Linked DNA regions of Homo sapiens: region 2 is linked to region 1. A link means that fine-mapping ties the variant in region 1 to the expression of a gene that starts in the linked region. Tissue or cell type: monocytes. Region 1 holds a variant in brackets; the other region holds the start of a gene. All regions are shown on one strand. Distances are between the middles of the regions.

Region 1 (3,008 bases):
CTAAAGGTGTTGAGGCAGCTTGGCCTGAGACCGTGATAGCTTCTGTTTCATCCCCAGATCTATTACATGGAGTTCAGAAACCAGGACGATTGCATTTATAAGCCCCAAATTTAAAAGATTATTTGAAAAAGAGCTTCTTGAGTTTTACTCTTGATACACTAAATGCAATCCACAGCCTCTCTGCCCTAACAGACTTTCGTGTTCCTTCCCTCTTTTATAGTAAAATTAGGAAGTGGGGAGACGGGACAAGTAAGTAAGGGAATCTGCACAGGCTGAGCAACCCCACCCTCAGCCTTGCTGAGTTCTCTCCACCCAGAGGACACTGTACTCCTGCTCTGGGAAGACAGCGCCTCCCGCCAGGGGATTCCGCCAACCACCGCTCCCTGCAATCGGGGTTACCAGTGATGATTCTTCCCCCAGCATCACCCTACGGTGTCTTGGCAGCCTGCCTCCTTCACAGACTGCCTCGAGAGTCCCTCAGAGCTATTTCCTTAAAGACCAAATGCGAGCATATCTTCACTGACGGGGTTTCAGAGCCTCACTTTGCAAGTTTTGAGGCAGAGGCTCAAACTAATTTTGCTGAGAAGGACAGGAGAGCTGAGAGAAAATCAAACAGAACGGCGGCTCTCCTCCCATTCATGGCATGTAATGCTCTGGGCCCAGCTACATCTGCCATGGCCTCCAGGGACCTGCTGGAGGGGTCTCCCAGCCCCACCTGGTATAAGCCAAGCCTGCTCCAGACTCAGGATCTGCCCAGAGGGCTGGGATCTCACAGCCTGAGGTAAGCATGAGTCAGTCTGAATGTAATCTACCCTCCCTACACCCCTTCCCAGCCCCAGCCTCTCTGAGGGGTCTCATAGCCACCCAGCCTGCCTGTGACCTTTGCTGGCTATAGCTTTTCTTCCCATTAACTTTTTTTGTTTTGTTTTTGAGATGGAGTTTCACTCTGTCGCCCAGGCTGGAGTGCAATGGCGCGATGTTGGCTCACTGTAATCTCTGCTTTCCAAGTGCAAGCAGTTCTTCCCCCTCAGCCTTCCAAGTAGCTGGGACCACAGGCACCCACCACCATGCCCGGCTAATTTTGGTGTTTTTAGTAGAGACAGAGTTTCACCACGTTGGCCAGGCTGGTCTCGAACTCCTGACCTCAGGTGATGCGCCCGCTTCGACCTCCCAAAGTGCTGGGATTACAGGCGTGAGCCACCATGCCCGGCCCCCATTAACTTTTAATAATAAAACATGGTGGCCAGGCGCGGTGGCTCACGCCTGTAATCCCAGCACTTTGGGAGGCTGAGG[T/C]GGGCAGATCACGAAGTCAGCAGATGGAGACCATCCAGGCTAACACGGTGAAACACCCCGTCTCTACTAAAAATACAAAAAAATTAGCCGGGCGTGGTGGCGGACGCCGGTAGTCCCAGCTACTCCGGAGGCCGAGACAGGAGAATGGTGTGCACCTGAGAGGCGGAGCTTGTGGTGAGCCGAGATTGCACCGCTGCACTCCAGCCTGGGCGACAGAGCAATACTTCATCTCAAATAATAAAATAATAATAATAATAATAAAAACATGCTGCCTGATTACAGGAACTTAAACTTGTTTTGTTTACCCAAGCTGACATGTAAAAGTTACTAATAACTTCTTTGTCTAGGCAAGTTAGCAAATGACTTTGTAAGCACTGAGCAGCTCCCCTTAACTGTTTAAGTGGGAAGCCAGCCGTCGCCTACCCCAGGCAGGGGAGGCAGGACTTCTCCAGTGGCTCAGGGGAGACTGCCCTTCTTTGCCAGTTTTGGTTTGCAGACAGGTCACTGAAAGGTGGGGCCAAAAAGCTTCTGTGAAGCAAAGAAATTTGAGACCCTAGTCCCTTTCTTTTGGAGATCTAATGTCCTTAGAACCTCTGTGATGAACAGAGGCTCTAGCTGAAGTCCACTGACGGGGAAAGGCACCAAAGGGCCCGAGGGAAGCCCATCATGACTGAAGAGGAAATAGAACAAGTGACCCTGTGTCTTAGTCAGCTTGCACTGCCATTGCAAAACACCACGGACTGAATGGCTTAAACAAAAAAAAAACATTTCTTTCTCACAGTTCTGGAGGCTAGGAAGCCCAAGGTGAAGGTACCGGCAGATCCAGTGTCTGGGGAGGGCTCACTTCCTGGTTTACAGACAGCCACCTTCTTGCTGTGTCCTCACGTGGATGAGAGAGCACACTCTGGCCTCCTTCTCTTCCAACAAGGGCACAAATCCTATCGTGGGGACCCCACCCTCACAACCTCATCTAAATGTAATTATCTCCCAAAGGCCCCACCTCCAAATATCATCACACTGTGGAGTAGGGCTTCCACCTATGAATCCGGGGTGGGGAGGACAGAAACATTCAGTCCCTAGAATCCTGTATCAGTGCTAAGGCCTGGTAGGGTTTGTGAGGGAAGCCGCGTTTGGCACAGGCTGAAGGTGCCCCCTCACCAGATAGAGGCTGAGAAGATGTGCTTTGAGGACCTCTGCTGAGCAGGGCTATGAACTGAAGTGTTTTTTCCTCTGGAGCCCGAGGACACGGTGCAGTTGCTCAGCAGCACTAAGGAGGGACTGGGTGTGCCCTGAGCAAGCTGTCATTGGGGGTTAAAGACTGAAACTGTCACAGCCTAGGTGCCTAGTGGCTTCCGGGACAGAGCTAAGCAGGGCACAACAGGGGTAGACGGTCTGTTCCATTAAGCTTTTGAAGCTCGTTGTCTGAGGTAATACCCAAGGTTCATCGTCTCATGCCAAGGAAATTGAGGATGCAGGCACACACGACGAGTGAGTTTAAGAGCAGAGGTTTAATAGGCAAGAGAAAGAAAAGCTCTCTCTCCTGCAGAGAGGGAGGGGCTCCCAAGTCGGTCTTCTGGCTCCGAGGTGAAATGCACTGGGTGTTATAGGTGAGCTTGAGGAGGCAGTGTCTGATTTGGAGGTTTTGCCTTGTTTTGTTTTGTTTTGTTTTTGAGACAGAGTTTCGCTCTTGTTGCCCAGGCTGGAGTGCAGTGGCA
Region 2 (2,723 bases), 24 kb before region 1:
CACACACACATACAATCACATACACACACTAACACACACACTCACGCAACACACTCACACACACAACATACATAACACACTCACAACATACACACACAACACACACACTCGCACAACATACACACACGCACAACATACACAACACTCACACAACACACAAACATACATACACTCACACAATACACACACACAACACACACACAACATACACAACGTACACACACACAACATACACACACTCATACACAACATACATACACACAACATACACACAACATACACACACTCACATACACAACATACACTCGCACAACATACACACATGCACAAGATACACACACAACACACAACATACACTCACACACAAGATACACACAACATATACTCACACAACATACACACACAACACACTCTCACACACAACATACCCTCTCACATACACGACATACACACACACAACATATGCACGCTCTCGCGCACATATACACACACACAACATTCACTCACACACACACACAGAGTCCCAGCTGAATCTGCATTCCTCATATGCACATACGTGCACACGCACATACGAGGCACATGTGTTCTTGGGTTGGGAGGAGAAGGGCAGGCAGTTATCTTCCAGATCTCCCCACACCTCTGGCACATGCCTTTCCTGGGGTCCTGGGGTAGACAGGAAGGTGAGGTGAGGGAACAAGCGGGGGTGTCGGGCCCTCCTCAGTCCCTGTTCACAGAGTGGGTGCGGCAGAGACCTCAAAGGGACAGAGCAATCATGAGCTGAGACAGAGGGGGAGCAAAGCCGCAGAAACTGCACACTTGCCTTTCAAAAATGGATTTCCTCTCCTGGGATTCAGCCTGCGAGTGCCTGGCCCCTCACCTTGATGGAAAGGATGGTCATTTTCCTCCGAGCTCAGCTGCTGGATATCTTGAAAGTCCTTGGCCATGATGGGGCCCGGGCTGGAGCTGGAGCTGGAGCTGGGCTGGGCTGGGCTGAGGTTGCTCTGAGGGCTGGGGCTGGGGCAGAGGTGCAGATTCACGTGGAGGTTGATGGTGGGATGGAACGCAGGGTCGGAGGGGTTCGGGGTGGTGGCCTGGGTAGGATCTGAGGTTGGCAGGGCGTTTGGGATGAGGTTTGAAATCCCGCTGGGTCCTTTCCCTTCTCAGGAGACCGCTTGGGCCTTGACCTGGCCAGGAGACCCCTCCCCACGCTCATGGACCCGACCACCCACAGCTTCCCATGGGGTCCTCCCCATCCCTGAACCAAGGCCTCCTTGTTCCCAAGCATCCTCGTCCCAGTTGCCTCCCCAGCCTCAGTTACCTGTGAAAGGTGTGGAGAGCGGACACCTGGCTCCCGCAGGCAACCCTGGCCTTGGCCAAGGAGGGGTTAAAGCCAGGAGAACTGGGGCAGGTGGAGCTCACAGGGGAGAGGAGAGTGGAGGAGGGGCTGGTCCGGGCAAGGCCTGCACTGGAGGGTCTGAGTGTCCAAGCTCTAACCTGGCACCTCCTGGCCTGGGACTTTGGACAGTAAACAGAAGAGGAAACAGAGCTGTAACTCATTTGTGGGGTGGGGGCAGGGGACGGGGCTATCTCTGTTCTTATTCCCAGAGAGGGGGGTCCCCTGGGCTGCGCTCAACTCCACACGCCACTCACCCCACTCATTGCACCATTTGGAAGGGGTGCCAGGCCAGGAGGGGCTGGGGTGCAGTTTGCCGTTTCCCTCTCTCCCTCCCCCTCTCACTTCCTGCCTCCGAATTTACCAGAACTGTGGGTGTCTCCAAATATCCCTGACCAGGATCACAGCGACCAGTTCTCTACTCTTGCCCAATCCGGCATCTGAACCACAGACCCCAGCTTCCTGTGGGCTCGGCCACCAGACTCTCAGCTCTGGCCCAACTCGCTTCACTCTCCTGGAGAGTAAAGCCTCTCAAATCCAGAAGCTTCAGCAGGAGGAGGAAGGGGCTTTGCAGAAAAACAGCTCTCCTCGCAGGAGGAATCCAACCTCAGAGAGCCCCGTCCGGCCCAGACCCTGCCCCAGCCCAGGCAACACAAACACTGTCCTCAGGCCCAGCCACTGCCCTAAATTCTCCAAGGTGTTTCTTCATTTATCACAGCACAACACCCCCACGAGGCAGGACTTCTGTTACTCCCATTTCACAGGGTTCGGAAGCGGAGCCTCGGAGAGATGAGGCAACTTGCTCTAGGTGGTGGCCCAGGTGAGTAGAGAAACTGGCAAAGCAAAATGGAGTAAAGAGGGGAAAATAACATCATAACAAAAGGTCTGGCCGGGCACGGTGGCTCACGCCTGTAATCCCAGCATTTTGGGAAGCCGACGTGGGTGGATCACCTGAGGTCAGGAGTTCGAGACCAGCCTGGCCAACATGGTGAAACTCTGTCTCTACTAAAATACAAAAATTAGCCGGGCGTGGTGGCAGGGGCCTGTAATCCCAGCTACTCAGGACGCTGAGGCAGGAGAATCGATTGAACCTGGGAGGCGGAGGTTGCATTAGCCAAGATTGCGCCATTGCACTCCAGCCTGGGCAACAAGAGAGAAACTCCATCTCAAAGAAAAAAAAAAGAAAGAAAGAAAAAGAAAAGAAAAGGTCTTCATGGTCCTACGAGGAAGACTGGCTTCCATGAAGCAAGGAACGTGGCTGACTGTCTACACTTGCGCTAACAATAGCTCGGGAAAGAAAACACAGTTTTTGTGCATGATTTTCTGACCC

What was found. PIP is the estimated chance that this variant, and not a neighbour inherited with it, causes the effect.
Region 2: ASGR2 starts here. The variant in region 1 is fine-mapped to the expression of ASGR2 in monocytes (Fairfax 2014, PIP 0.95).

Annotation. Positions count from the first base shown.
Region 1 is chr17:7,137,018-7,140,025 of GRCh38, forward strand. It overlaps LOC105371512 (a long non-coding RNA gene), which reads left to right. Exons shown (of 3, transcript XR_934191.3): 2 at 221-781. Among named protein-coding and RNA genes, the nearest start is that of ASGR2, 24 kb to the left of the region's middle. The variant T/C (reference allele first, on the strand shown) is at 1,294.
Region 2 is chr17:7,113,297-7,116,019 of GRCh38, forward strand. It overlaps ASGR2 (asialoglycoprotein receptor 2), which reads right to left and starts at 1,526. Exons shown (of 9, transcript NM_001201352.2): 1 at 1,319-1,526; 2 at 821-1,014. The coding sequence starts at 944. RefSeq lists an enhancer at 1,678-2,464.